Regions from separate parts of the Homo sapiens genome. Here all the other regions are linked to region 2. The links come from fine-mapping of genetic effects on gene expression. A gene starts in region 2. Each other region holds a variant in brackets. All regions are shown on one strand. Distances are between the middles of the regions. Region 1 overlaps CDC42EP4 (CDC42 effector protein 4). Region 2 holds the start of CDC42EP4 (CDC42 effector protein 4). Region 3 overlaps SDK2 (sidekick cell adhesion molecule 2).

Region 1 (9,752 bases), 23 kb after region 2:
CAGTGGCGCGATCTCAGCTCACTGCAACCTCCACCTCCTGGGTTCAAGCGATTCTCCCTGCCTCAGCCTCCTGAATAACTGGGACTACAGGTGCACACCACCATGCCTGGCTGATTTCTGTGTTTTTAGTGGAGATGGGGTTTCACCATGTTGGCCAGGCTGGTCTCGAACTCCTGACCTCAGGAGATCCACCCGCCTCAGCCTCCCAAAGTGCTGGGATTACAGGTGTGAGCCACCACGCCCGGCCTTGTGTTTGGTTTTTGATTGTGGTTACTTAGGCTCAGAATATTACAGCAGTGAGCCTTAACCTCCTTGCGCACGCAGCACACTTCCAGATGCAAGGGCTTTTGAGCAGGGCACATGAAGGAGTTAAAAGATCCCCAAGAATACTAAAGTCAGCTAAAATCACAACACAGTCGGCATTGAAGTCCTGCCTGGAACATGTAACCACGTGTATCTAAGCGGTCACTGTTCTCGCCCATTCACTTAGCTGCCCTCAGCCCTGCCACAGTTTGAATGAAACACAGTCTTCCGCCTTCCCTGTGCTTTCCTATCTTTGCAGGGTAAGGCTGGTGAGTGTTCCAGAAAGTACTGGATTTTTCTCTGGTGACTAAAGCCAGAGTCCCTCACCTCTTAGAGTTGTGGCCCATGTCCCAGTGAGCCTCTTGCACAACCCCCTCCAGCGTGCTGTTCCATCTGACAAGCCTTGTGTAGCAGAATGCCACCTGTGTTTCGGCAAAGTGAAGTTCCGCCTAGGGGTAGGATGTCAGCCCCTCCTGTGAGAAGGGGCCGTGGCCTGCCAGGCAAAACCTGGGAAAGGATGGCCAGGACCAGAGGCTGCCCCTGGAAGGCCTGGAGTCCCATTTGATCCTGTCTTTTCTCTCCTCCCTGGTCTGGGCCCTCCACAATCCCGGGTGTCTCTACCTCCAAAACATGGCCTAAATGTCTCCCACTGTGTCCCCCTTCGCCAGACCCACATCCTGGTCTCCATCCTCTTTGACCTGCATTTCTGCAACAGCCTCCTGACTGAATTCCAGCTCCCCTCCTTCATTCCTCCAATGCCAGGACCTCCGGGAGCTTCCAGATACACAGATTGAATCACTCGCCTGCTTACAAACAGCCGCCGGTTTCCTTGTACACCTATAATGACCTCCAAACTCCTTACCTGGGCTGGGTGCGGTGGCTCATGCCTGTAATGCCAGAACTTTGGGAGGCCAAGGCGGGTGGATTGCTTGATGCCAGGAGTTCGAGACCAGCCTGGCCGACGTGGTGAAACCCCATCTCTAAAAACATAAAAAAATCGGCCAGGAGCAGTGGCTCCTGTAATCCCAGCACTTTGGGAGGCCGAGGCGGGCAGATCACCTGAAGTCAGGAGTTCAGGACCAGCCTAGCCAACATGGTGAAACCTGGTCTCTCCAAAAAATTCAAAAATTAACTGGGCATGATGGCAGGTGCCTGTAATAAAAACTAAAAACAAAACAGAACTCTTTATGTGGCCTGGTAGGGAGGGCTCTATGTAACCTGGGCCCTGGCTGCATGGATTTTTATTCTATTCCATAAATGCCACAAGCCTGTTCCTATACCCCGGCGTTTGCACGCGCCGTTCCCTCTGCCTGGGTCGCTTCTGACCCGGCTGGTTCCTTCTCATCATTTGGTTCTCAACTCATGATGCTCCTTCCTCAAGAGGGGCCTCCCCCAGACCCCCTGACTCCCACACCCACTCATACCACCCCTTTCCCTCCTTATACTGAGGAATATGAGATACCATTTATTTTATTTATAGGTTTACACCTCCATTCCCCACCCCCACCCCCCACACTCACACTACACACGTGCCCTGGGAAAACAGCGTGCTATTTTCACTGCTCTATCTCCAGGGCCTAGAAGAGTTTGTGAATATCAGTGGGTCTGCAGGAAGTCATGGAGTGAGTGACTGGATGATGAGTAATGGAACAAAGCCTCTTGTAGCCGATCCAGGTCACAACTAAAGTCATCGTGCACTAAAAGCCCTCTGCTATTCGGCCACATTGCCTGGACCTGGCATCGGGTGGTTGGTTAGAACAGCTAGGGGAAGGCCCTGCAGAGGGCATGCTGCCCAGCAGCAGTGGCGGAGGCAGTGGCAGTGGGCATTGAGGCATGTTGTGTACCCTGTATACCGGGGTGAACCGCAGGGCAGCTTCAGAGAGCGAGGCCTGCCTAGCTGCCCCATGAGAGCTCAGGTCTGGCGCCTGCCTCAAGCCAAGCTGCCAGGGACAGGCCACTGCCCGGTCACTTGGAGTGAGAAGTGTTGGTCCCGTCTGTCCTTCTGCTCTGGGTCTGCTGGGCTGGCCAAGCTGGGAGGGCCAGGGAGGATAGGCGAGGGGTCCAGGCAAGGGTGGTCTTCCGTAGTCTCAGGAACAGGGCTGAACTAAAGGTGTGGTTGCTGTGACCCAAGCAGGGGCCTGACCTTCTGGGGAGGGCTCCTCGTTCCCACCTTAAAGGAAGGTTCCGTGGTCAGTGGGCTGAGGGTAGAGGAATCTGTTCCTCCGGAGGCTCAGGAGAGCTAGGGAGGGCTGTGAGCTGTGATCCATTTTCCCTCTCCCTGCCAAGAAAGTGGGATGTGGTTTCTGGGGTGGGGTGGGGGTGTCCCGCCCAAGGCAGGCTATGGGGAGTGCCTGCCCCACGTTGGGCAGCCTATTTTAGCCACTTCCCCAGAGCTGAGTCACCATGCTTCTGAAAGCCCCGCCCAAAGCCACAATGCCCTGTGGCCTCCCAAACCATAGCTGCCCCCAGGACCTGCCCAGGCCTCTGGCGAGACTCCCACCACCTACTTTCTCTTAAACTCTATGATCCAGCTCGTCACCTCCAAACTGTTCTCTGTTAGAAGCTCAGAGTGACTCAAGGTCACTCAAGGCTGGTGAAACCAAGCTGTTGCTGACCCTCAATCCTGCTGGGTGGCCTGTCTAGTCTGAGCTCCAGACACCCAGGCCTCATCCCCAGTGTGGACTGCCAGGTACTGCAGCCCCCTCCTCGCTGGGGCAGTGGGACAGATGCGTGACTCCCTCTAGGCCCCAACTCTCTCAGGACCCTTCCTTGCTGGTTATTGAAGATGGCTTTCTACAAGCCACAAAGTCTCGTTCCCAACCCCCCAGGAAGCGAGACCGTGGCAGCAGGCAGCACTGGGTAGACCTGTCCCTGTCTTTCTGGGGTGTGGGGTTGAACAAGATCCTGGGGACCCCAGGGCTAGCCCAGGATGGCCGTGATTTCAGCTGAGTTTCCCTGCTGTCCCCTCTGACCTACCTCAATAGTTCTACCCGCAAGGATGTGCTGGGTGGTGTGGCTAATGGGATGCGGGGAGCTGTCCTCCCCTGTAGCCATCATGGCCAGGATATTTGGTCCCTTTGGGCAGCCACAGTGACCTGCAGCTTCTCTGGTGAGTCCTGGGGAGCCGGGTCTGTGGTTTCCCTTTCTTTCCTCTCTAATGAGCGTATAAGATCGGGAAACCACAGGACCTGACATCACTCACAGGGTCTGGGGGTTCCTGCCTTGGCGTTGAAACCCTTAACGCAGCTCTGGGGGCTCGTGCCGCCATGTTCTCACCCGGTTCTGACCATCCACACCCGCCTCCCTGCTTCTCTGTCTTTGTTGTTTACCTGGTGAGCATACCTGCTCTATCTTCACCTGTGTGTTCTCACTCAAGGCTGCTGTTTCTCAACTGGGGCAGTTTTGCCTCCTGGGGGACATTGGGCAATATCTTGAGACAGTTTTGCTTGTTGTGACTGGGGGGTGGATGCTACTGGCATCTAATGGGTAGAGACCAGGGATGCTGCTGAATATCCTACAGTGCACAGGGCAGGTCCACCTCCCGATGAGAAATTATCTGGCCCAAATAGCAACAGTGTGGAACCTGCTCTAGGATTACACAAGAACCTTCTTGAAGCAGCTGTTGGGTACCCCCTTCTCTGTACCCTGCCGGCCAGCAGTGGGGAGGAGCACTCAGTGGTCGGTGGTCACTGACCAGCAATGCCGCCGCCAGAGCTGGAGAAGGGCCTGGAGTGGAGCGGAGAGAGCTCTGGACTCAAAGACCCAGTTTCTAGCCCAGCTCTGTTGCTTTGGGCTAAAAACCTGGATAAATCACTTTCCTTCAATAAACTTGTTTCCTCATCCATAAAGTGAAAGTGCTGCACTGAATATCCCCTCCAGTTCTTTGAGATTCCTGGATGCTGTGCGTAGAGCCAGGAGTCGGGGTGCAGGCAGGTGGAAGATGGGGTCCCCTCCGTTCCTGACTGGTGTCCCTGCTGGTGGCAGTAGAAGCCTGAAGGATTTGCCAGGAACGAGAGTTCGTTTGAAGCTTGGCCTTTTTCCCTTCTATGCCCAACGTGACTGAGGCAGAGTCTACCTTCTCTTTTTCTTTTTCTTTTCTTCTGCTGCTTCTTTTTCTCTTTCTTTCCTTCCTTGCTTTTCTTTTCCTTTCTTCCTTTCTTCTCTTCCTTTCCTTTCCTTCTTTCCTTTCTTTTTCTTTCTCTCTTTCTTTTTTTCTTTCCTTATTTCCTTTCCTTCCTTCCTTTCCTTCCCCTCCCTTCCTCCCTCCCTTCCTCCCTCCCTCCCTTCCTCCCTTCCTGTTTTCTTCAGAGTTTTGCCTAGGAGCCCATGGCTGGCCAAGAGGGTCATATATGATATTCAGGAGTCAGCAAACTACAGTCCATGGGCCAAACCCAGCCTGCGTTTGCTTTTGTAAATAAAGATGTGGCTTTTTGGTGGTTTTTTTTCTTTTACTGGTTTATTACAAAAGATACGACTCAGGAACAGCCAAACGGAAGAGCTGCATGAGGATGCGTGGGGTCAAGTGTTGGGGTGGGGGGCAGGGCACGCACCACCTTCCTGG[C/T]ACCTCGATCTGCTCACCAACCCAGAAGTTGTCTGTAAATAAAATGTTATTGGAACATAGCCATGCCTACTTGTTTACATGTTGCTATGGCTCCTTTCTTTCTTTTTTTGATTTTGTGTAGAGATGGGGTCTCACCGTGTTGCCCAGGCTGGTCTGGAACTCCTGGGCTCAACTGATCCTCCTGCCGTAGCCTCCCAGAGTGCTGGGATTACAGTTGTGACCCACTGTGCCCGGCCAACGGCTAGTTTTATACTAAGAAGACAGTTGAGTAGCTGTGACAAAAACCCTATCAGCCACAAGGCCGAGAATATTTACTCTCTGGCCCTTTGCAAAAAGTGTTTGCTGACCTTTGGTCTAGCGGTTCAATGTCTAATTGTTTAGAGGTTGAGGTGGGGCAGGAGGGTGGGGCCCAGAGATAATCCAAGTTAGAGTTAGGGGAAGGTCACTTTCCTAAGGGTAGGGAGGAGAGAGAGCTGACCTATGACCCAGAGTAGAGTATCATCTCAAGGCATCCCTCACGTCCTCGCCCACGTCACTGTGTGGCAAGTCTGCCAGGTGCCTGGCTCCCCCTCCCTGCCCGAGAGAACTTTGTGTTTGCTGGAATGATAAGCGGTATGGCGTGGGCACTGGGAGGGGGGACATTGCTGGTGGGGGAAGCCATGAGGCTGGGCAGCAGAGGCTTGAGAGAACAGGGAAGCGGATGGGGGTGAGGATGCAGAGAGGTCAGGCTGGGAGCCCTGGAGCCAGGCTGTGGGCAGAAGGGGAGGAGAGGAGGGAGGTGCTGGACTTCCAGTGGGTGCTTGGAGGCGGTTGGAGGCGGACCATGTGTCACACCCTGCTGGACCAGACTCGGTGGTAAACAGACCTGTTAAAACCCTCTGGATGGACCAGGCGCGGTGGCTCACGCTGATCCCACGTCCTGATCCCAGCACTGGGAGGCCGAGGTGGGTGGATCACCTGAGGTCAGGAGTTCGAGACCAGCCTGACCAACATGGTGAAACTCCATCTCTATCTCTACTAAAATTACAAAAAAAAAAAAAAAATAGCTGGACGTGGTGGTGTGCACCTGTAAATCTCAGCTACTCAGGAGACTGAGGCAAGAGAATCGCTAGAACCCGGGAGGCAGAAGTTGCAGTGAGCCAAGATCATGCCATTACACTCCGGCCTGGGGGACAGGGCGAGAATCTGCCTCAAAACCCTAGAAGTTTGTACTGCAGTGGGAAGATGAGAGTCCAGCCAGCAGGGACAGAATAATGTAGCCAGTATCTGCTGGAAGAGGGGACATCTCCCAAAGTGCCGTGGGGGGCAGGTGGTGGCTAAAGGTTTCCTGGGAGTAGTGATGTGTCCCAGCTGAGCCCTGAAGGATGCTGGGTGTGGCAGGGGTTGCATTGGGGAACTGTTTGTATCCACTGCAGCTCAGGGGATAGATCAGGGTACAAAAGTAGGGGACACTGAGGAGCGAGGTGGGGACTAGTCATTGGATCAAGGGGTCTGCACTGGGTAGGGCGTCATGTGGATGGGTTTTGTTTTAGCCAAGAGGTGAAGGATGGACAGGAGGGAGACCAACAGGGAGACCTGTCAGGCTGATGTCAGGGGCCAGGTGGGGTGTGGTGGGCTTGTGTGACGCAGCGGCAGGCATGCGGAGGAAGCACCCAGCATCTGAGTTTTGCAGTGGGAAGAGTGGGTCTGGACTGGGGGTGCCTCTCAGAACTGTGCTGCTGGCTGGACTGGGAGGCAGGCAGGTACCTGGTGTCCAAGCATCACCTCTCACCCACCATACTTTGTTAAATCCCTGCACCCATCTCTCCCCAACCTGCCCAGCTCTGCTGGGCTTAGTATTTGGGGCAAGCCCCTCTAGGGAAGAGAGGGGCTGGTTTGGCCCCAATGCTGAACTTCAACTTGGCCCTTGTCAGGAGCTGTGAGAGTGGTGCCTCCAGGCTCCTGGGCTCTACCTCTGCTGTTTTTTGGATTTCTGGTGAATCACCTAGGAATCAGTCTGCAGATCCTGGGGGGACGAAGTCATTTAGGGTCCAGTCCCTGCCTCCCACTCCCCTAATGATGAAAGAAACTGGAAGTTGCCCAATCTTGATCTCCCCGAGACACCAGAAGGTGGACCCTCAGCAAAGAGCCTGGGGCTCCACAGTGGAGACGTCACAGGCGGGATCCTCATTTATGGGATACCAAGCGAAGGCTGAAAGGCTGGGGAGCTGGTTCTGTGGGTCCCAGCAGCCCCACCCCAGTTCTGATTCAGAAAGAGGACTGTGCCGCCCACGCAGGGGGAGGAGCTGGTCAGCCTCTGTCTCCCTGAGCCCGTCCTGTCCTTTCCCTTCTCTCTCTGAGGACCAGGACTCAGGGTGGGGTGTCCACTAACTCCACAGGGATCGAGGTTAGACAGCAGGAAGAACTTACAGCACATCTCCAGGCTGACTGTTCATAGGAGCCAACTCATAGACTCCATCTCTTCCCTGGCTTGCTGCCTGGAATTGCTGGATTTACCTTCGCGTCCTTAAATGTGGTCATGTTTACTCTGGCAGCATCCTGGCTTGCAGGGGCAGGGGAGGCATTGTCTTCTGCAAGAAAGGTTCTGTCTCTCTCAAGTTTCAGGGAAAGTGTGTCCGAGGCTACTGGAACTCTAACCAGATTTGCAAAATCACTCCTCTACTCTGAATGCCTGCGGATGAAGAAACAGGCAGGGTTATACCATGGATTGCTGGCTTATTTCACAGCATTTAACTTTGGTAGGAGCGCTGGGGTTTAAATGACAGTCCCCTGGCAAAGAGGCTTTTGTGCCGTGTGGCCAGCCCGCGTTAATCCTTTGCCTCTCATTCTCTGCTTGCAGCCTTATGATCTCCTCATTGCGTCCCCCTCTGCCCACTGGACTTGGACTTCAGATCTGACCCCAGACCTGCCGGCTACCTCGGGAGGGCCCACCTCCCCGCCCATCCAGCAAGATGCCAATCCTCAAGCAACTGGTGTCCAGCTCGGTGCACTCCAAGCGCCGTTCCCGAGCGGACCTCACGGCCGAGATGATCAGCGCCCCGCTGGGCGACTTCCGCCACACCATGCACGTTGGCCGGGCCGGAGACGCCTTTGGGGACACCTCCTTCCTCAATAGCAAGGCTGGCGAGCCCGACGGCGAGTCCTTGGACGAACAGCCCTCTTCTTCATCTTCCAAACGCAGTCTCCTGTCCAGGAAGTTCCGGGGCAGCAAGCGGTCACAGTCGGTGACCAGGGGGGAGCGGGAGCAGCGTGACATGCTGGGCTCCCTGCGGGACTCGGCCCTGTTTGTCAAGAATGCCATGTCCCTGCCCCAGCTCAATGAGAAGGAGGCCGCGGAGAAGGGCACCAGTAAGCTGCCCAAGAGCCTGTCATCCAGCCCCGTGAAGAAGGCCAATGACGGGGAGGGCGGCGATGAGGAGGCGGGCACGGAGGAGGCAGTGCCCCGTCGGAATGGGGCCGCGGGTCCACATTCCCCTGACCCCCTCCTCGATGAGCAGGCCTTTGGGGATCTGACAGATCTGCCTGTCGTGCCCAAGGCCACGTACGGGCTGAAGCATGCGGAGTCCATCATGTCCTTCCACATCGACCTGGGGCCCTCCATGCTGGGTGACGTCCTCAGCATCATGGACAAGGAGGAGTGGGACCCCGAGGAGGGGGAGGGTGGTTACCATGGCGATGAGGGCGCCGCTGGCACCATCACCCAGGCTCCCCCGTACGCCGTGGCGGCCCCTCCCCTGGCAAGGCAGGAAGGCAAGGCTGGCCCAGACTTGCCCTCCCTCCCCTCCCATGCTCTGGAGGATGAGGGGTGGGCAGCAGCGGCCCCCAGCCCCGGCTCAGCCCGCAGCATGGGCAGCCACACCACACGGGACAGCAGCTCCCTCTCCAGCTGCACCTCAGGCATCCTGGAGGAGCGCAGCCCTGCCTTCCGGGGGCCGGACAGGGCCCGGGCTGCTGTCTCAAGACAGCCAGACAAGGAGTTCTCCTTCATGGATGAGGAGGAGGAGGATGAAATCCGTGTGTGAGGCGGACAGTGGGTGGCCACCGGGAGCTCTTGGCTGCATCTTCTCCCTGCCCCCACCCCACTATGACCTTTGACCCTACGGCGCAGGGGCAGCCAGGACCCTTGATTCAGACCATGGACCCTGGACCTTGTAGATGAGGGACACTGGCCTGGCCCTCGGGTCTTCGGAGGACGTAGGGGGCTGGCATGGGTGCCGACTGGCTGCCTGACTTCATCATGCTCCCTGCACTTAGGCTGCGTGGGACAAGGGCTGTGTTGTCACAGCAGGAATAGGTTTTCCTCTGTTGGCCTCCCTTTCCTCCACCCTGGCCTCAAATGGATGCCAGATGCCAACCCCAGTTCTGGCCACGTACAGCCAGCGGGTCAGCCCAGAGGCAGCCTCAGCTCCAGGGCTAAGGACTCTCGGCTCCCATTTTCTCTGCTGGCGTTTCTGCTGTGCCCAGCAGTGGCTGCTGGGGAAGCAGCTGCAGCAGGAGGGAGACGGTCTTGCCTCTCAGCCCCTCCCTGCCCCACCCCAGCTCCTGCCCTGGAAATCTGGAGCCCCTTGGAGCTGAGCTGGACGGGGGGCCAGCTGCGAGCATGTGCACTAAACGCAGCCCTTTCCAGGGGAAGAGAACAGGATGGAGAATGGAAGGAAAGCCCCCCAGGCTTCGTGAATTGCAAGAAGGGACCCTTCCAGGATGACACTAGGAACAGGGCTAGGGCACTCGCTCAGTCCCTAGGGGCTTGTTTGTTCTTTATTATTGTGTTTAAATCCTTATAGAGCAATATCAGGATGGTGTTAATAGGTCTGCCTCAGAATGAGAATCAATCCTTTTAGAAAACCTTTATACTAAGCCTCCTCTTCAAAATTCACAGTGGCGATTA
Region 2 (9,752 bases):
CATCAAGCCATGGTGGCACCTTGAGGTTCAGTCCAGGACCATCTTGTCTCACCTCAATAGGGGAAGGGGGGCTCAAAATAGACTTGAAAGCCAGGCACGGTGGCTCACACCTATAATCCCAGTCCTTTGGGAGGCAGAGGAGGGAAGATCACTTGAAGTCAAGAGTTCGAGATCAGCCTGGCCAACAGGGTAAAACCTGCCTCTACTAAAAAAAAAAAAAAATTAGCCAGGAATTGGCTAATTGGTAGTGGGCACCTATAATCCCAGCTACTCAGGAGGCTGAGGCAGGAGAATCGCTTGAACCCAGGAGGCGGAGGCTGCAGTGAACTGAGATTGCGGACTGCACTGCAGCCTGGGCGTCAGAGCAAGAATCCTAAAAAAAAAAAAAAAAAAAAAAAAAAAAAAGGGGAATAGACATAGAAAGTTGTAGTGTTCTTGCTTGGGGAGATAGCTTATTTCACGAAGAGAAATGACCTGCCCAGAGTCATACTTTAGGACAAACACCAGACTGGAATGAGTGGAACTTCCAGCCCCTCCAAGGAAATAGGACAAATTGGCCGGGCGCGGTGGCTCACGCCTGTGATCTTGCACTTCGGGAGGCCGAGGCGGGCAAATCACGAGGTCAGGAGATCGAGACCATCCTGGCTAACGTGGTGAAATCCCGTCTCTACTAAAAATACAAAGAATTACCCGGGCGTGGTGGCGGGCGCCTGTAGTCCCAGCTACTCAGGAGGCCGAGGCAGGAGAATGGCGTGAACCTGGGAGGCAGAGCTTGCAGTGAGCCGAGATCATGCCACTGCACTCCAGCCTGGGCAACAGAGCGAGACTCCGTCTCAAAAAAAAAAAAAAAAAAAAAAAAAGGAAATAGGACTAATTAACCTCTTAGAGCTGGGACAAAATAACATGAACTAAAATGCCCAGAACTCCATGTTAACAAACACTGGGATGTGGTATGTTGGTGCAAAAAAGTAATTGCGGTTTTTGCCATTGAAAGTAATGGCAAAAACCGCAATAACTTTTGCATCTACCTAATATGTGTTGGGGGTTGGGGGTGGATATTAGGGAGGGGCAAGTCCATGAAGCTGCAAGGATCATGCATGCCCAAGTCCCAGAGGCAGGCAGGCCCCAGCGGCCCCAGACAGGCAGAGACACACGCCTAGGCCTAAAGGCTTACAGGTCAAGTTACACCAAGGGTGCAGTTAAGACCTCAAATCCCTCTCCAAAGTCAGGGGCTTAGAGCTTGCCAGAAATTTCAAGTAGGTATGTATTCAAGCCTCAGATTTTTTATTTTGTTAATTTCCTCTGGTTACTCATAGACAGCTCTAGCCTAACGGGTTGGAGCAAAACTTGCTTCAGTGGATCCTTCGGAGAGAAATCCACAGGTCTGGGATTCCCACCATCAAAGAAAATGATCTTCTAATCACATCTTCCCTCAGAGGGCTAGGATGCAGTCTAGAAGCATCTACGGAGCCCCTCCCTGAAGCAGTTTGTTTCTACTCTAGGCGTCCTGAGGGCAGGGACTGGGCTTCGTTGTCTTTGTCCCCAAAGGCAAGCCTCCACTGTTGTTAAATGTTTGTGGAAGGAGCCTGAATTTGGGTAAGGAGCAGAATTACAAAGGGACCTAAAGACTTTGTCCCGGAGGTGTGCTTAATAGATATGGATGATAATTGGGAAAAGGAAAACAGATTACTAACAGCTAGCCCTAAGAAAACCGAAATACTTCATTTAAAATGGAAGGAAAGAGATGGGGAGAGGGAGATGTCTCAGAGAAAATAAGAAACGTTTTTTTTTTGTTTTTGTTTTTAACTTAAGCTATGATTTCAGGAGAAAGAGGTCCTGGAACGCCAGGAACCAGGGAGGACTTCCACCTGGAAGCAATGTGGTAGAAGGAGACCCACTGAGGGCCTGCATATGCCCAGCAAATGGCCAGGTGCCTTTGTTTGTTTGTTTGTTTGTTTTTTGAGACAGGGTCTCCCTCTGTTACCCAGGCTAGAATGCAGTGGCATGATCTTGGCTTACTGCAGCCTCAACCTGCAGGCTCAAGTGGATTCTCCCATCTCAGCCTCCCAAATAGCTGGGACTACAGGCATGCACCACCACACCTTGCTGATTTTTGTATACTTTTGTAGAGATGGGGTTTCGCCAGGTTGCCAGGTTTCTCTTGAACTCCTGGGCTCAAGCGATCCACTGGCTTCAGCCTCCCAAAGCAGTGGGATTACAGGCATGAGCCACCGCGCCCAGCCTAAGTGATCTCTTTTAATATTCACCCCAATAGGGGAAGGTAGAGATTGCTGTTCTCACTTTACAGATGGGGAAGCTGGTGGATAACTTGTCAGCTCATAAATGGCAGAGCTAGAATTCCAATCCAGAGGCGTCTCCAAACCTCTATCCAGCGAGCCTTACCCACAGTCCTGTTGCAGCTCCTACTTCTTTTGAGGACACCTTTGGCACTAGGTCATGATGACAGCAATCACCTCCATTCTGGTTGCTTTCTAGTCATAAAGCGCTTTCACACCTGATATCTCATTCCTCTTTACACCCTCCAGACGAGGCTAGCAGAGGGGTCCTGTGCTCTTTGGACACATAAGGACAGCCAGGCTAGCTAAGGGTCAGAGGTGGGAATTAGCGACTTCCCCATGTGAAAGGGAATAGAATCTCGGGACCCCAAATTCACTATGTCAAAGGGAAAGTTTAATCCCAGCACTTTTGGAGGTTGAGGTGGGTGGATTGCTTGAGCTCAGGAGTTTGAGACCAGCCTGGGCAACATGACAGAACCCTGTCTCTACAAAAGAAAAAGTACAAAATATGTAGCTGGGCATGGTGGCGCACACCTGTAGTCTCAGCTACTCAGGAGGGTGAGGTGGGAGGATCGCTTGAGCCCAGGAGGCCAAGGCTATAGTGAGCTACGATTGCAGCACTGCACTCCAGCCTGGGCAACAGAGCAAGACCCTGTCTCCAAAAAAAAAAAAGGGGCGGGGCTGGGGGGGACGTTAAGCTTGGAAACCACAGAAGCTGCTTTCCTTTTGTTCCCAGATAGCTGCAGTTTCACAACCCTGTTGACACAGGGTTTCCTTTGCTCCCCTTAGACGTACTGAGTAGGAGACAATGCATCATTGACTTTTTCTTCTATTCCCTTTCACATGTAAAATGTAGACTTACAGACACTAAATCAGAGCCTCACACGCTTGTGACCTCAATGCCTTTCCTCCCTCTCTCCCTCTTCTTTTCCTTTCCTGCTTGCTTTTTCTCTTTTAAATACAGAAGTTCCCAAAACCTTTTTGGAAAAAAGGTGATTTTTCCCCGGTGGATCCTCAACCTTGGCTAACTAAACCTCTATTTGATTGAGATCTGCCTTAGTCACTTTTTGGTTTACATCCATGATAACCCCGCCAGGGTTTGAATCCACAGTGTCTGCCTCCCAAGTGGCTCCAAACCCTACCTTTCCCTCCAGATGTCCAGTTCAGAATTTGATTTTACTTATTATTCATTTATTTTTTTTTTTGAGATGGAGTCTACCTCTGTCACCCAGGCTAGAGTGCAATAGCGCGATCTCGGCTCACTGCAACCTCCACCTCCCAGGTTCAAGCGATTGTCCCGCCTCAGCCTCCTGGGTAGCTGGGATTACAGGCGCCCACCACCATGCCCGACTAATTTTTGTATTTTTGGTAGAGATGGGGTTTCGCCATGTTGGCCAGGCTGGTCTCAAACTTCTGACCTCAAGTGACCCCCCACCTGCCTTGGCCTCCCAAAATGCTAGGATTACAGGCATGAGCCACTGCGCCCAGCCCAGAACTTAATTTTCACAGCAGGATGGAGTGGCCAAACCATTAGCTCTCAAGAGCTGGTTGCTGTCGCACTGCAGAGGGAAACGGAAATGTGCTGTCCCCAGAAAGCAGAATGTTCCTGAGGGCTTAGGGACCTCGCAGCCATGGGGAAAGTCTGGGGCCTTCACCCTCACTTCCTTTAAAAACCGAGGGTGGGGTTCAGCTAGAGGCAAGGGAACTTTTCACTTTGCGCCTTGTCCACTTTAGTTGACTACTTCGCAGCTGGCATTCTACCTTGATAATGATCATTTCAACTGAAACTATTCCTCTAAAAAGAATAGAGTCCAAGGCCTGGGACTTGGATTCAGGCTCTGGGACTCAGGAGTTGATCCTCCTTGACGTTCACCTGGTGCAAATTTAGCCTCAGCTGATACTTAGGAGGCAAAGGCACAGACGGGGATGCGGGGAGCTCAAGGGCTGTCACCCTGTAGAAACATTTCTGACGCCCAGTCCAAGCCTGGCCTCGGGGCTGGCCGGCTCCTCCCCGCTCCCTCGTTTACAGCGAGAGTCTGGGATGGCACCCACGAAGCTGGTGGCGCCAGCCCTCCTGCCCCATCTCCCGACAGTACTGCAGCCAGGTGGTTAGCAGGTCCGGGAGGGAGCAGGAACGAGGAACGCCACCCGGGCTGGAGTTCTTGGTTTCTTGCCCCGGCTCGAATGGGGAAGAGCCTCAAAAGAGCCTCGCGCCAGGCCCCCGGAGGGAGACGCGCCCCTGGCCCTGGGGGCCCCAGTGGGGGTTCGCGGCCGGAGCGCAGGCTGGGGCGGGAGTGTCTCCCGGAAGCCGGGCGGGCCCAGGCTGCCCCATACGGAGTTGGGAAAGTCTCAGGCTTTCAGTTTGAACCGAGGAGGCCGAGCAGTCGGGCAGAGGTTCCCGACGGCCATTGGCTGCTGCGGCGCCGTGACATCAGCGCAGAGGGGTGCGCGGGGAGGGTTGCGCGGGGCGGGCGCGGGCGGAGCCTGGAAGGGGAGTGTCCTGGAGGCTCCCAGCCCTGAAAGCCCGAGAGCCAGAGGGAAACAAACGCCGGCGCTGACAGGGGCCGCCAGCCCCTCCGCCGCGCGGAGCCCACGAAGGGGACAGCGCAGCCGGCCCAGAGCTCGGGTCTCCGGGGACCGAGGTAGGCGACGGGCAACCGCCTCTGTCTGTGGTAGCCGCCTTCGCGCTGGGTGCCCTGGGTGGGCTTGGGGGTCTCGAGTCCCCCTGTGGGGCAGAGAGGATCGAAGCTGGGGATGCGAGGCCGCGGCGCGGGGAGAAGGGCGCGGAGCCCCCACTTCTCGGCGCTCGCGCTTTTCACCGCGCCCACCGCGGTGCCTGGGACCCTAAGCTGCGCACCTAGTGTCCTGGCAGAGCGGGATGTGTGGAGGAGGAGGTGGCAGGGAGCCGGGCGCAGCGTTGCCGGGACTCCATTTCCTCTCTCCACGCTGGAACTCCCGGCCCTGGCCAAGGGTGCCGCTGAGGGGGTTGGGGGCCGGTTTTAAAGGGCCTCCCCCTTCCCAGGAATGGGGTGTGTGTCGGTGTGGGCAGGAGCGCAGCAATCGGCGGCGCGCGGCCCGCGATCTCCGCGAGGGGGGCGTGTGTGCGCCCGGAGTTCTCCATGAATAAGAACCGAATTCTCCGCCTGTACGGGCAGAGGCGTGTACACATCTCGCTCTCGTACACACACTGCAGCACACGCCACCCAATGTCACCCGGCCGGGAAGCCAGAGGGAAGGAGCTGTCTGGAAGGGAATGGCCGAAGGAACAAATGGTCCTCCTTTCCCCTACTCCCGCCCCGCGAACCCTTCCCTCCCCCGCCAGGCTCCCGCCCCGCCCGCTCCCTCGGAAGCCCGGGAGGCCGAGGCGCCTCCTGGCGGGGTGCGGGGGGAGGGCAGTCGAGCCACCCGCCCCCTTGGAGCCGGGGAGACGGCCGCTCCTGGGCTAGTGCGCCCCGAGCTCAGCGCGCTCAGCGGGATCGCAGGCGGGAGCGGTCGGTTAATGATTTAATCGCCCGCTTGGGGCGGGTGCGCGCGGATCGGCCGTCCCTGGCCCCGCCCCCTCTCCGGAGCGCCCCCAGCCGGGGTTACAAAACTGCCCCCTGCCCCCGGCGCGTCCCCCAGGAGCCATCCTGCCCGCGGGGATCCCGTCAGCCGGTGAGTGCCCCGGCCGGGAGGGCTGGAGAGCTGGGCGGGAGCCGGGGCTGAGGCTGAGCCAGCTTCCTGGGAGAGGACTGAAGTGCGTGTGTGTGTGTGTGTGTGTGTGTGTGTGTGTGTGTGTGTGTGTGTGTGTGACTGGGGGAGGGGTGCTCGCTGCTAACTCAAACCAGGTTCCCTGTGTTTTCCCAGTGACTGCGGCCTCGGCTTTGGAAGTTTTCTTTTTCTCCCTGGGAGAATGGAGGGGAAATACAATGCCTTTTCTTTTCTCGTTGCCTCTGGAACTTCTCTCTCTCCACGACTCCCACCCCTTGCAATCTGACCGGCTCCCACATCCCTTACTGTGTGCCCGGTGCCCACTGTTTGCCCAGATAGCTGAGCAGCTGGATCCGGGTGGAGTCCTTGGGAGCCCCCGTCGCTGCGAAGCCCCCTGCCCTCCCCTGAGGGTCCAGGGTGCTGGAGGGAAAATCTCTCTCTCGTCCGAACCCCAGCAGCCATCTGTACCAGAGAAATGTCCCATCCAGCGAGTGTAAATAATGAGGGGCCGGTGACAGGGGCCTCCTGCAAGGCGACTTCTTTGGCAGTCTGGGTTTCCAATAACTCCCTCAGCCCCCGCCCGCTTCTGAGGCTAGGGTGGAGGAGGGACCACCAGCAGGGTGGACTGAATTTTAAGAGAACAAAGAACAGGCCACAAAGGAAGGGATTGCTGAGCTGCGGATTTCTGATTTCTCCCAGAAATCGGGAGTTGGCTGGGACTGAGCCAGGCCCTAAGAGAGCCCCTGGCAGCCCCAGGGGCTCCTGGGGCAATAACAGGGCATCCACCAGGATCTCCTGAGGCTCTATCTCTGCTGAGAAGCCAGTGCCTACTGAATGCGGGGGTGCCCTGCCGGTTCCTGCTCTCATCAACTGCCCTGTGTGAGCTGCACATGTGACTGACTGATTAGTGGGGTGGCTTATCTCCTCTGAACTTGGACTTTGCCTCTCCACTCCTTGAAGACAGCTGCTCCTTCCCACAAGGGGTGTTCAGTGAATTTGGGGAGATCCCAAGTGGATTCCCAGGCATCCTGGTGGACCCCTGCAGGGACTAGGAGGGGCCCGCTGTGATCATATGGGCGGTGGTTCTGGGGTGAGTCTCAGCGCCTCCCCTCTGAAATCTCCCTGAAGTCCTAGGGTCCCTGCACACAGAGGGCAGCTTGCTCCTGCTCTGCTGTACAGCCTAGGCCTGTGCTGTGAATGATTCTCCATTTTCTGGGGTTTCTGCCTCTCTCTTTTTGGATTCCTCTTCTCTTTTCCCCTCGTTTCTCTCTTTCCCTTGCCCACCCACCGTGCTTGTCCCCATCCTCTGTACCCTGCCTCCACTGTGCTGCTGCCTCTGGAACCCGACAGCACCTCACAGAACCAGAGACCAAGGAGTCAGAAGCAAAGGGAGGTCTCATGTATAAAGGTCAGGGGAGTGAGTGTTGACCTGGGAGAGGAATCTTACACCAGTCTTTTGATTTTAAAAATAATTTTTATTTTATTTATTAATTTTTTGAGACCAGGTCTTGCTCTGTCACCCAGGTTGTGGTGCAGCGTCATAGTCAAGGCTCACTGCAGGCTGGACCTCCTGGGCTCAAGCTATCCTCCCACTTCAGCCTCCTGAGTAGCTGGGACTACTGGCGCCCACCACCACGCCCAGCCATTTTTTGTATTTTTTGTAGAGGTGGGGTTTCACCATGTTGCCCAGGCTGGTCTTGAACTCCTGAGCTCAAGGGATCTTCCCCCACCTCGGCCTCTCAAAGTGCTGGGCATACAGGTATGAGCCACTGCACCTGGCCAACCCTTTTTTTTTTTTTTTTTTTTGGAGACAGAGCTTTGCTCTGTTGCCCAGGCTGGAGTGCAGTGGCACAATCTTGGCTCACTGCATCCTCCACCTCCCGGGTTCAAGCAATTCTCCTGCCTCAGCCTCTGCAGTAGCTGGGATTATAGGTGCATGCCACCACGCCCGGCTAATTTTTTTTTGTATTTTAGTAGAAACAGGGTTTCACTGTGTTGCCCAGGCCGGTCGCGAACTCCTGAACTCAGGCAATCCACCCACCTCGGCCTCCCCAAGAGCCGGGATTACAGGCGTAAACCACTGCACCCAGCCCTGGCCAACCCTTCTTAACAAGTCCAGAGCTTTTCCAGAAGGGCCTTGGGTTGGCAGTGGCCCAGGGCTTCCACCCCTTTGGAGTGACTGATTGATTTCTGCGGCCCGGACTGTCTGTGCGCAGGTGTGGCCAAAAGGTGTTTGATGTTGGCCTCTCCCTTTCACTCTCCCCCACCCCACGCCCCTACGTTTGGATTGGGTTCGAAGTGAAGAAGTCAGAAGTCAGAGTGGTCAGGGTTGCACTTGGTTAGCAGTAAGTCCAGCCTTCTGTGTTCTCATTCTGGTTCTGCAGACTCAGAGGAGTTTGTCCCTGTGGGGGGAGGGAGGAGTCCGTCCCTTGGAGGAATGGGGAGCTGGGTTGATGCCAGAGATAAGGCCTGTGGGCGGAGGGAGAAGGGTTGAGCAATCTCGCCCTGGAAACAGAGCTGACCTGAGCTCTGCGTAGCTCTTCTGACCTACGTACTGGAGGATTTTTCCCGACCGTGAGGAAAAGAACCAAATTCTGGAGCTGGGGACACTTTGAGGGGTCATCCGGCAGAGTGTCCTGAAGGCCAACTCCAGCCAGTGCTTCTGGGGTGCTCTAGGAAGGCCAAGCCCATGCGTGCCCTCTCTCGGCAGGGAACTGGATGGTAGTGCTGGAAGGAGCCCGCATGTGGCACTGGACACAGCCCTTTTTGCTTGAGTGCGTTGGGAAGGAAATTCAGACATTAGGGCCGGGCACAGTGGCTCACGCCTGTAATCTCAGCACTTGGGGAGGCCAAGGCGGGCAGATCACTTGAGGTCAGGAGTTTGAGATCAGCCTGGCCAATATGGTGAAACCCCGTCTCTACTAAAAATACAAAAATTAGCCGGGCATGGTGGCGTGCACCTATAATCCCAGCTACTGGGGAAGCTGAGACACAAGAATCGCTTGAACCCAAGAGGTGGAGGTTGCTGTACTCCAGCATGGGCGATAGAGTGAGACTCCATCTCAAAAAAAAAAAAAAAAAAAAGAGAGAAATTCAGGGCCAGGCGTGGTGGCTCACACCTGTAATCCCAGCACTTTGGGAGGCCAAGGCGGGTGGATCAGGAGGTCAGGAGATCGAGACCATCCTGACTAACACAGTGAAACCCTGTCTCTACTAAAAAGTACAAAAAATTAGCTAGGCTTGGTGGTGGGCGCCTGTAGTCCCAGCTACTTGGGAGGCTGAGGCAGGAGAATGGTGTGAACCCGGGAGGCGGAGCTTGCAGTGAGCCGAGATCGCGCCACTGCATTCTAGCCTGGGTGACAGAGCGAGACTCCGTCTAAAAAAAAAAAAAAAAAAAGAAAGAAAGAAAAATTCAGACATTAGTCTCCCACATTCCCGCTCACCGTGCCCCGAAAGCTCCAGCTTAAAATACGCCTTCTTGAGGAGACTTGGGCTTCCTTCCAACTAACTTACATTGGAGTCTCCCCCAGGCACTGCCAGCTTGCAGCTCTGGGCTCTGTGCCAGGATGGCAGTGCTGGCATCCAAAGCCCTCCCTTGCCAGGAACAGGGGAACTGGCTGTCTCCACTCAAGCTGAGGAAGGGTCTCTCTTTTGGGATTCAGGTGAGCACAGTTTAGGGTGTGGTCATTAATGAAGGCTTACAGTTCCCCACCTGTAAGAAACTGCTCTGCACACCTGGTGTTTCCCCTTCACCCCAAAGATGGA
Region 3 (9,752 bases), 60 kb before region 2:
CTAAAGATGGATGACACCCCTCAAGGCATTGCCCAGGAGCACCAGCTGGGAAAACTAAATATTGCCCCCCTAGCATATGCCTCCCATGGGAAAAGAAAGGGGCCAGGGCAGCGCCAGCAGCAGTGTGGCAGCCACCAGACTGTCGAGGCTTGTAAGTGGTGAGTTAATAGACAGACCCAGGAAAATGTGCAGGTGCACAACACCATACAGAATACAGCAGAGGCCTACATGCTCCAGAAAACATGACCCGTACCTGAGCGGCAACTGTGGATGTGAACGGAGAAAGTGCTACCTCCTGGACCTGTGATAACCAAGGTACTGACATCAACACGCACGAACATCAGTGACGCATTAACTTCATCAACCCATGAGCACACCGAAGCTGATACTGCATTCCAGTCAGACTGCACCCAACTGGTGCGTGGCAGGCACATTCATGCACGTTCTGAGAGCTCCAGTCTTTCAGTTGGTCAATGACACGTGTTTATTGAGCAGTTATTGTGTGCCCAGCATTGTGAGCTTAGATGTTAGGGAGGGAAGGCCAACACGGGGCAAAATAAATAATACCGCCAGGTGGTGGTAAATGAAGCAGGTTAGGGGAGAGCCAGGTCCATGAGGAGGTTTGAATTTTTTTTTTTTTTTTTGACACGGAGTCTTGCTCTGCCGCCAGGCTGAAGTGCAGTGGTGCAATCTCAGCTCACTGCAACCCCCACCTCCCAGGTTCAAGCGATTCTCCTTCCTCCGCCTCCCAAGTAGCTGGGATTACAGGTGCCTGCCACCATGCCCAGCTAATTTTTGTGTTTTTAGTAGAGACGGGGTTTCACCATGTTGGCCAGGATGGTCTCAATCTCTTGACTTCGTGATCCACCCACCTCGGCCTCCCAAAGTGCTGGGATTACAGGAGTGAGCCAGCGCATCCAGCCTGAAATTTTATTTTATTTTAGTTTAGTTTATTTTATTTCTTTCTTTCTTTTTTTTCCTGAGATGGAGTCTTGTTCTGTCACCCAGGCTGAAGTGCAGTGGTGCGATCTTGGCTCACTGCAACCTCTGCCTCCCAGGTTCAAGTGATTCTCCCACCTCAGCCTCCTGAGTAGCTGGGATTACAGGTGCCTGCCACCATGCCCAGCTAATTTTTGTATTTTTAGTAGAGACAGGGTTTCACCATGTTGGCCAAGCTTGTCTCGAGCTCCTGACCCCAGGTGATCCGCCCTCGGTCTCCCAAATTGCTGAGATTACAGGCGTGAGCCACTGTGCCCAGCCAGGGTTTGAAATTTTAAATGGGTTGTTAAGGGCTGGGCTCAGTGGCTCACAACTGTAATCCTGGCGCTTTGAAAGGCCGAGGTGGGTGGATTGCTTGACTCCAGGAGTCCAAGACCAGCCTGGGCAACATGGTAAAAGCCTGTCTCTACAAAAAGAAAACAACAACAAAATTAGCCGGGTGTGGTGGCACATGCCTGTAGTCCCAGCCAACGGGGTGGGAGGTGGGAGGAGTGCCTGAGCCCGGCCGAGTGAGGGTGCAGTGAGCCATTGTTGCACCACTGCACTCCAGCCTGGGCAACAGATCAAGACTGTCTCAAAAAAAAAAAAAAAAAAAAAAAAAAAAAAAGGTTGTTAGGAAAGGACTTAATGAGAAGGTGATATTTGAGCAAAAACCTGAAGGAGAACAGGGCACAAATCACATGGATCCAGAAAGAGAGGAAAAAAGAGCAAAGGTCTCAGGGTAGACAGGTACTTGGGGTATACGGAGAGCCTTGTGTGTCCCCAGAGTGAGTTCCAGGGAGCGCAATGGGAGATGGGAAAGCCGGGGCTGGAGCACCTGGGGTCCTTCGGGGCTTTGGCTGTCACTCTTGAGTGAAGTCCTCTGAGTGGAGGACTGGGACCTTCAGAGGGTCCCGCTGGCTGCTGTGCTGAGCAGAGTCTGAAATGGGGAAAGCCCAGAAGCTATGGGGAGGCATCTGAACTATCCGGGTGGGCCATGAAGGGGGCTCAGATCAGGTGAGAGCAGAGTGAGAAGTGGCCACTCTCAGTTAGTCCCAACAGCAGAGCTGGTAGAATTTGCTAACAAATCAGGCTGGGCACAGTGGCTCACACCTGTAATCCCAGCACTTTGGGAGCCCAAGGCGGGCAGATCACTTGAGGTCAGGAGTTCGAGACCAGCCTGGCCAACATGACGAAACCGCATCTCTACTAAAAATACAAAAATTAGCTGGGTATGGTAGCGCATGCTTGTAATTCCAGCTACTGGGGAGGCTGAGGCAAAAGAATCCCTTGAACCCAGAAGGCAGAGGTTGCAGTGCACCAAGATCACGCCACTGTACTCCAGCCTGGGCAACAGAGCGAGACCCCATCTCAAAAAAAAAAAAAATTACCGACAAATCGAACATGGAATGGGAGAAAAGGGAGGCAACAAGGACAGCCCCAGGGTCCACAGGATGATGGAGCAGGAAAAGACAAAGCTGGTGAAGGAGGAGGCTAGGGAAATCTGGAGTCTGGTTCCAGATGTGTTTGGTTTGAGACGTCTGTTGGACATTCGAGGGGAGACAGAACAGAGTCAGAGATGCATGTCTGGAGTTCAAGAGAGAAGGATCAAACCAGAGATGTGAATTATAGAGTCCTCGGCATATAGATGGTACTGAAAGCTAGAGATTAGACAAGGAAAGATAAAGAACAAAAGAAGTCTACAAATTGAGCCCTGAAACCAAAAACTGAGTGATGTCTCAGAGCTCATGGGAAGAACATGCTTCCAGAAGGAGGGAGAACCTCTGGAATGGGAGAAATATTTGCAAACCATACATATGACCAGGGGTTAGTAGCCAAAATATGTAAGGAACTCATACAACAAAAGTGAAAGAAAATGGGGCAAAGGACCCAAATGGACATTTCTCAAAAGAAGATACATAGGCTGGGCACGGTGGCTCATGCCTGTAATCCCAGCACTTTGGGAAGCCAAGGTAGGCAGATCACCTGAGGTCAGTAGTTCGAGACCAGCCTGGCCAACATGGTGAAACCCCGTCTCTACTAAAAATACAAAAATTAGCTGGCCATGGCGGCAGGCACCTGGCTGAGGCAGGAGAATCGCTTGAACCCAGGAGGTGGAGGTTGCAGTGAACCCATATCATGCCACTGCAGTCTAGCCTGGGTGACAGAGCAAGACTCCAACTCAAAAAAAAAGAAAAAAGAAGATATATAAATGGTCAACAGGTATCTAAGAAGGTGTTCAACATCGCTCAGCATCAGGGAAATGCAAATCAAAACCACAGTGAGATATCCCATCACACCTGCAAGGATGGCTGTTATCAAAAAGTCTAGAGATAAGTGGTGGTAAGCGTATGGGGAAAAGGGAACCTTTGCACGCTGTTGGTGGGAACGTATATCAGTACAGCCATTATGGATAACGGTATGGAAGTTCCGCAGAAAATTAAAAATAGAACTCCAATGATCCAGCAATCCCACTACTGGGTATTTATCCAAAGGAATTGAAATGAGGCTCTTGAAGAGCTATCTGCAGGCCCATGTTAATTTCAGCATCATTCACAGTAGCCAAGATGTGGAAATAGCCTGAGTGTCTGTGAATGGATGAATGAATGAAGAAAATGTGGTTTATACACAGTGGAATACCATCCAGCCTTGAAGGAAATCCTGCTGTTTGCAACAACACGGATGAACCTGCAGGATATTATGCCAAATGAAATGTACCAAGCACAGAAAGACAAATACTGCATGACCTCGCGTATATGTGGAATCTAAAATAATCAAACTCATAGGAACAGAGAGTAGAACAGCGGTTGCCAGAGGCTGAGGGAGTGAGGGAAATAGGGAGAAGGTCCCAGGATACAGCGTTTCGGTGAAGCAGGCTGAATACGATCTAGATCTAATGTACAACATGGTGATGATAGTTAATGATACCGTATTGTACACTTGAAATTTGCTCAGAAGGTTCTCACCACAAAAAGATGATGAACATGTTAATTAGCTTGATTGTGGTAATCATTTCATAATGCATGTGTATATCAGAACACCATGTTGTATACCTTAAACACATACAGTTTTTTGGGGTTTTTTTGTTTTTTGATTTTTTTGTTTGTTTGTTTTTTTCGAGACAGAGTCTCACTCTGTCACCCAGGCTGGAGTGCAGTGGTGTGATCTCCACTCACTGCAACCTCTGCCTCCTAGGTTCAAGGGATTGTCCTGTCTCAGCCTCCCGAGTAGCTGGGATTACAGGCACCCACCACCATGCCCGGCTATATATAGATCTTAGATTGTCAATTATACCTCAATAAAGCTGAAAAAAGAAATGAAAGGGCAGAGAATTGGGCATAGTAAATGGCAGGTTCGTGATTATAATGGTGCACTCCCATGCTTGCCCCTGTCCACATAAGGCATTTATTCATCCAGCAGATATTGATTGAGGACCATGGATGTGCCAGCCATGATTCTAGGTGTTTGGGTCCCAAGGGGGCCACATGGACCGAGATGCCTGCCCGCTGGAGCCTGCATTCTGGCAGACTCCTGGTTACCCATCAATGTGCCCCATGCAGCTCAGCAGTGTGCCCCATGGGAACCAGGATCTGGGCTCAGTCCCTTTATGTCCTTTGCACGCGTGTCAGTCCCTCTCACTGTGAATCATCAGCTAACAAAGGTCCGCAGAATGCAGCGCTCACAAACAAGATGCACCTGCCGGAGTGCCTGGTTTGTGAAGACAGCTGTCCCTGGGTTCTAGGCCCCGACCCACTCCTCACCCAAGAGCATGACTGCAGCCATTGGCCCTTCCTCTCCTCCACCTCCCCAGTGGATAGCTCCCACGGGCAGGGCAGAAAAGCATTCTGAGATATGTTTCCTCTTTTTATGCCTTTTCCTGACCTCACTTTTTTTTTTTTTTAACGGACTCTCGCTCC[G/A]TTGCCCAGGCTGGAGTGCAGTGGTGCTATCTCAGCTCACTGCAGCCTCCACCTCTCGGGTTCAAGTGATTCTCCTGCCTCAGCCTCCTGAGTAGCTGGGATTACAGGCATCCGCCACCATGCCCGGCTAATTTTTGTATTTTTAGTAGAGATAGAGTTTCGCCATGTTGGCCAGGCTGGTCTCAAACTCCTGACCTCAGGTGATCCACCTGCCTCAGCCTTCCAAAGTGCTGGGATTACAGGTGTGAGCCACCGCACCTGGCCTGACCTCACATTTTCTTCCAGTTGTCACCCATTTCTTTGGCCCCTTTACAGCAGAATTCCTCAAAAGAATCTTCTGTACTCACTCCCTCCGATTCCTCTGCTCTCTTTCTCCCTTGAACTCGCTCCAAATAGGTTCTCATCCCCGCCACCCCACCGAAGCTCTTCCTGCCAAAGTTGTTAATAATTCCCATGTTGCTCATATCGAGTCAAACCACAGGCTTATCCTGCCTGACTCAGCAGCTGTGTTTGACACATGGATCTCTCCTTCCTCTCAAAATGCTTGCTTTCCTCAGCTTCCCTCGCTAGCTCTTCCTCCCCACCAACCACTGAATGCTGGAGGCCCCCAGGGATCAATCCACAGCCCTCTTCTCTACCTAAGAGAATCCATTCATTCTCCCAGTGTGCACTCACGGAAGACCACCTGTGTGCTAATAATGGCAAACTTTTAGCATCAGCCATGACCTTTCCAAATCCAACAGGAACTTTGTTAACTGTTGTACCCCCATTAGTATGAATGCATGAGTGAATGAATGATTTCATACATGACTGCCTCTGCTTTCATTCATCTATCCATATGAGAAGAATCTGCTTTTCGTTATTTTTATGTTATTTTAGAGATGGAGTCTTGTTCTGTTGCCCAGGCTGGAGTGCAGTGGTGTGATCTCAGCTCACTGCAACCTTCACCTCCCGGGTTCCAGCCATCCTCCTGCCTCAGCCTCCCAAGTAGCTGGAACTGCAGGTGCACACCACCACTCCTGGCTAATTTTTGTGTTTTTAGTAGAGACAGGGGTCTTGCCATGTTGCCCAGGCTGGTCTTGAACTCATGGGCACAGGCGATTCCCCTCTCTCAGCTTCCCAAGTGCTAGGATTACAGGTGTGAGCCGCTGCACCCGGCCCTCTCCCCCTTTCTAAAAAAGAAATCACTACAAAAGAAATCCCCATCTCTACGAAAGAAATAGCCAGGTGTGGTAGCACTCATGTAGTCAGAGCTACCTGGGGGGCTGAGGCGGGAGGATTGCTTGAACCTGGAGGTCAAGGTTACAGTGAGCCAAGATCATGCCACTGCACCCCAGTCTGCGTGACAAAATGAGACCCTGTCTTGAAATAAAATAAAATAAAATAAAATGGGAGAGAGGGCCGGGCACAGTGGCTCACACCTGTAATCTCAGCACTTTGGGAAGCCAAGGTGGTTGGATCGCTTGAGCCCAGGAGTTCAAGACCAGCCTGGGAAACATGGCAAGACCCCGTCTCTACAAAAAATTAAAAACTTAGCTGGGTGTGGTGGTGCACACCTGTAGTCCTGGCCACTCAGGAGGCTGAGGTGGGAGGATGGCTTGAGCCCAGGTGGTTGAGGCTGCAGTGAGCTGTGATCGTGCCACTGCACTCCAGCCTGGGCAACAGAGTGAGGCCTGTCTCAAATAAAAAAATAATAATAAAGGGGGAGAGGGATTGGAGAAAAGCAAGGATTTCATGGTAACAAGATGTCCTAACTGCCACCCATACATGCCAGTGGGGACACTTTTATTAGCTCTTTCTCACTTTATGGGCTTCCTCCAGGGAAATGAGAAATTGAAAAGCCGGTGACATGCAGAAACCTCATTGGCCAGCAGGGGGCGCCAAATGACCTCCAATTTTGCACGTGGCTGGGCCCAGCTGGCCGCTATCTGGATGGCCTCAGTCCTGGAACTAGCAGAAGTGTTAACCTGTGCTACAGAGGAAATGATTGAAAACAATGGCTGGGCTTGGTGGTTCGCGCCTGTAACCCCAGCACTTTGGGAGGCCGAGGCGGGCGGATCACAAGGTCAGGAGATCTAGACCATCCTGGCTAACACGGTGAAATCCCGTCTCTACTAAAAATCCAAAAATTAGCCGGGCGTGGTGGCGGGTGCCTGTGTCCCAGCTACTCGGGAGGCTGAGGCAGGAGAATGGCGTGAACCCGTGAGGCGGAGCAAGATCGCACCACAGCACTCCAGCCTGTGTGACAGTGCGAGACTCCATCTCAAAAAACAGAAAGGAAGAGAAAACACCAGGGAGCATCTGTTGTGTTCCTGGCCTAAAGCCTTCTGCAGCCACGGGGTTCCTTAGGAAACTGGCCAAGTACCTGGGTGAAACCCTTAGAACCTGCACCCCTCACACGGACCCCAGGAAGTACGTGTCCTTAACCTCACTGAATGTACGACAAAACTGCAGCTCTGGGAAGTCAGCTGGCCAGGTCCCGCTGCTGTATGCGGTGCAGCTGGGATTCAGCCTCCCGCTGCCCGCCGTCTTGGCCGAGGCCTTCCTCTGCAGCGGGCCTTGTTCCTGTTAACCAGCAGCTGCTGGTGCAGCGGGCCCGGGGTGGCCCTGAGACTCTGCATCCCTCACCAGCTCCCAGGTGACATGAGGCCACCAGCACTTGCACCACACTCTGTCTGGATAGACTCCACACTGCCTTATCTCCCCAGCTCAGCCTCCCGTAGGACGGATTTGCTTTATTCCTCCAGGAACTGTACTAAGTGCTGATGTGCCAGCGCTATGGTAAATCCTCCAGGCATGGCGGGAAACACAGACACTTGGGGGCCATGCCCTGGAGTTTACTGTCTGGCAGAGACCAGGGTCTTGGCTGTGAAAAGGAAGGTTCCAGAAAGGTTTCTAAAACAGTTCTTAAATTCTTTTTTTTTTTTTTTGAGATGGAGTCTTGCTCTGTCACCCAGGCTGGAGTACAGTGGCGTGATCTCAGCTCACTGCAACCTCCACCTCCCAGGTTCAAGTGATTTTCCTGCCTCAGCCTCCAGAGTAGCTGGGACTACAGGCACTTGCCACCATGCCCGGCTGATTTTTTTGTATTTCCAGTAGAAACGGGGATTCACCATGTTGGCCAGGCTAGTCTTGAACTCCTGGCCTCAAGTGATCCACCCACCTCTGCCTCCCAAAGTGCTGGGATTACAGGTGTGAGCCACCGCACCCGGCCTCTTAAAGACTTCTCCGCTGTTTCCCAGGTGACTCACAGCAATGAAGGTGTCTCTGAGACTACAGGTCAGCAGGGACAGGAGGGACTCTCATTGCCCCTGTCCCCCTCACTCCCACATCCTTCTGTTCCCACAGATTTATTTCTGGGAAGCCCAGCGGGGGAACCTCACAGAGCGAGTGAAGACGCTTTTCCTGGCTGAGAACAGCGTGAAGCTCAAGAACTTGACTGGCTACACGGCCTACATGGTCAGCGTGGCCGCCTTCAACGCCGCTGGGGATGGGCCTCGGAGCACCCCCACCCAAGGCCAGACCCAGCAAGCAGGTGGGAGAGGGGGCCCTGAGGAGGGGAGGGGTAGGTCGGCCACGGGGGGTTGCAAGAGGACCTACCTGGCATCCGGGCTCTTGGCAGGCATGGGGGCAGCTGCCTTATCCGCCTGAGGATCTGGTCGTGGTACCCAGGTCCCCAGAGACACCCTCCCAAGTGGGAGAGCCCATTCTCAGAAAAGAGAAGCTGTCCCCATAAAGCCTTGAGAAACCCCCACACCTCATCCCTGTCCTCCCCACCGTTTGCCCCGCCTTGCAGACGGACAGTCAGCACCCCCAGCCCCTCCCAGCCAGCCTACTTCTGCTCCCTGCCTTCTTCCCACCTGCCTTCCCTCTGTCTCTCTGGCTTTGTTCATTCCACAAATACTGAGTGTCTTATGAGCCCGTGCCATGCTAGATGCTAGGGACACAACAGTGAGACCAGCAAGGTCCCCACCCTAGTGCGGGGGACAGATCATAAGCAAGTTGATGAAGTAAATGCAGACGGGGGTCAGCACAGGTGACCTAAGAGTGAGGCAGGAGTGGGTGGATGGCTCTGGATAGGCTCACCCACAAAGCCCTCCCTGAGGAGGTGAGATTTGAATGAGAAGAGGCCGGCAGGGGCCAGGCATGGTGGCTCACGCCTGTAATCCCAGCACTTTGGGAAGCCAAGGCAGGTGGATCACCTGAGGTCAGGAGTTTAAGACCAGCCTGGCCAACATGGTGACACCCTGTCTCTACTAAAAATATAAAAAATTATCCAGGCATGGTGGTACGTGCCTGTAATCCCAGCTACTTGGGAGGCTGAGGCAGGAGAATCACTTGAACCCGGGAGGTGGAGGTTGCAGTGAGCCGAGATTGTGCTACTGCTGCACTCTAGCCTGGGTGACAGAGTAAGACTCTGTCCCAAAAAAAAAAAAGACAAGAGGCCAGCCATGAGATGCTCTCAGGAGGTGGCAGAGGGTGCTGGGGGCTCCAGGCAGAGGGAACCGCAGGTGCTAAGGCCTAGGGGCTGGAGAGGAACCCGGGAACGCAGAGAAAGCCAGGTGGCTTGCAGGAAAATGGGGCGAGAGCTCAGGCTGGGGGATTGGGATTGGGATTAATTATAAGTACAATGGACCACACATGGTATCTCACACCTGTAATCCCAGCACTTTGGGAGGCCGAGGTGGGTGGATCATTTGAGGTCAGGAGTTCAAGACCAGCCTGGCCAACATGATGAAACCCTATCTGTACTTAAAAAACTACAAAAATTAGCTGGGCATGGTGGTGCACCCTTCTCCAATCCCAGCTACTCAGGAGGCTGAGGCAGGAGAATCGCTTGAACCTGGGAGGTGGAGG

What was found. PIP is the estimated chance that this variant, and not a neighbour inherited with it, causes the effect.
Region 1: its variant is fine-mapped to the expression of CDC42EP4 in whole blood (TOPMed, PIP above 0.99).
Region 3: its variant is fine-mapped to the expression of CDC42EP4 in whole blood (TOPMed, PIP 0.95).

What each region holds. Positions count from the first base shown.
Region 1 is chr17:73,284,564-73,294,315 of GRCh38, reverse strand. CDC42EP4 (CDC42 effector protein 4) reads left to right here. Exons shown (of 2, transcript NM_012121.5): 2 at 7,704-9,752. The coding sequence starts at 7,816. The coding sequence ends at 8,886. Among named protein-coding and RNA genes, the nearest start is that of CDC42EP4, 23 kb to the left of the region's middle. RefSeq lists enhancers at 2,331-2,400, 1,667-2,548, 2,532-2,826, 2,801-2,880, 3,171-3,390 and 3 more. The variant C/T (reference allele first, on the strand shown) is at 4,865.
Region 2 is chr17:73,307,080-73,316,831 of GRCh38, reverse strand. CDC42EP4 (CDC42 effector protein 4) reads left to right here and starts at 4,831. Exons shown (of 2, transcript NM_012121.5): 1 at 4,831-4,939. RefSeq lists silencers at 4,453-4,612, 4,683-4,942, 5,393-5,942, 5,953-6,082.
Region 3 is chr17:73,367,085-73,376,836 of GRCh38, reverse strand. SDK2 (sidekick cell adhesion molecule 2) reads left to right here. Exons shown (of 45, transcript NM_001144952.2): 37 at 8,244-8,430. Among named protein-coding and RNA genes, the nearest start is that of CDC42EP4, 60 kb to the right of the region's middle. The variant G/A (reference allele first, on the strand shown) is at 4,896.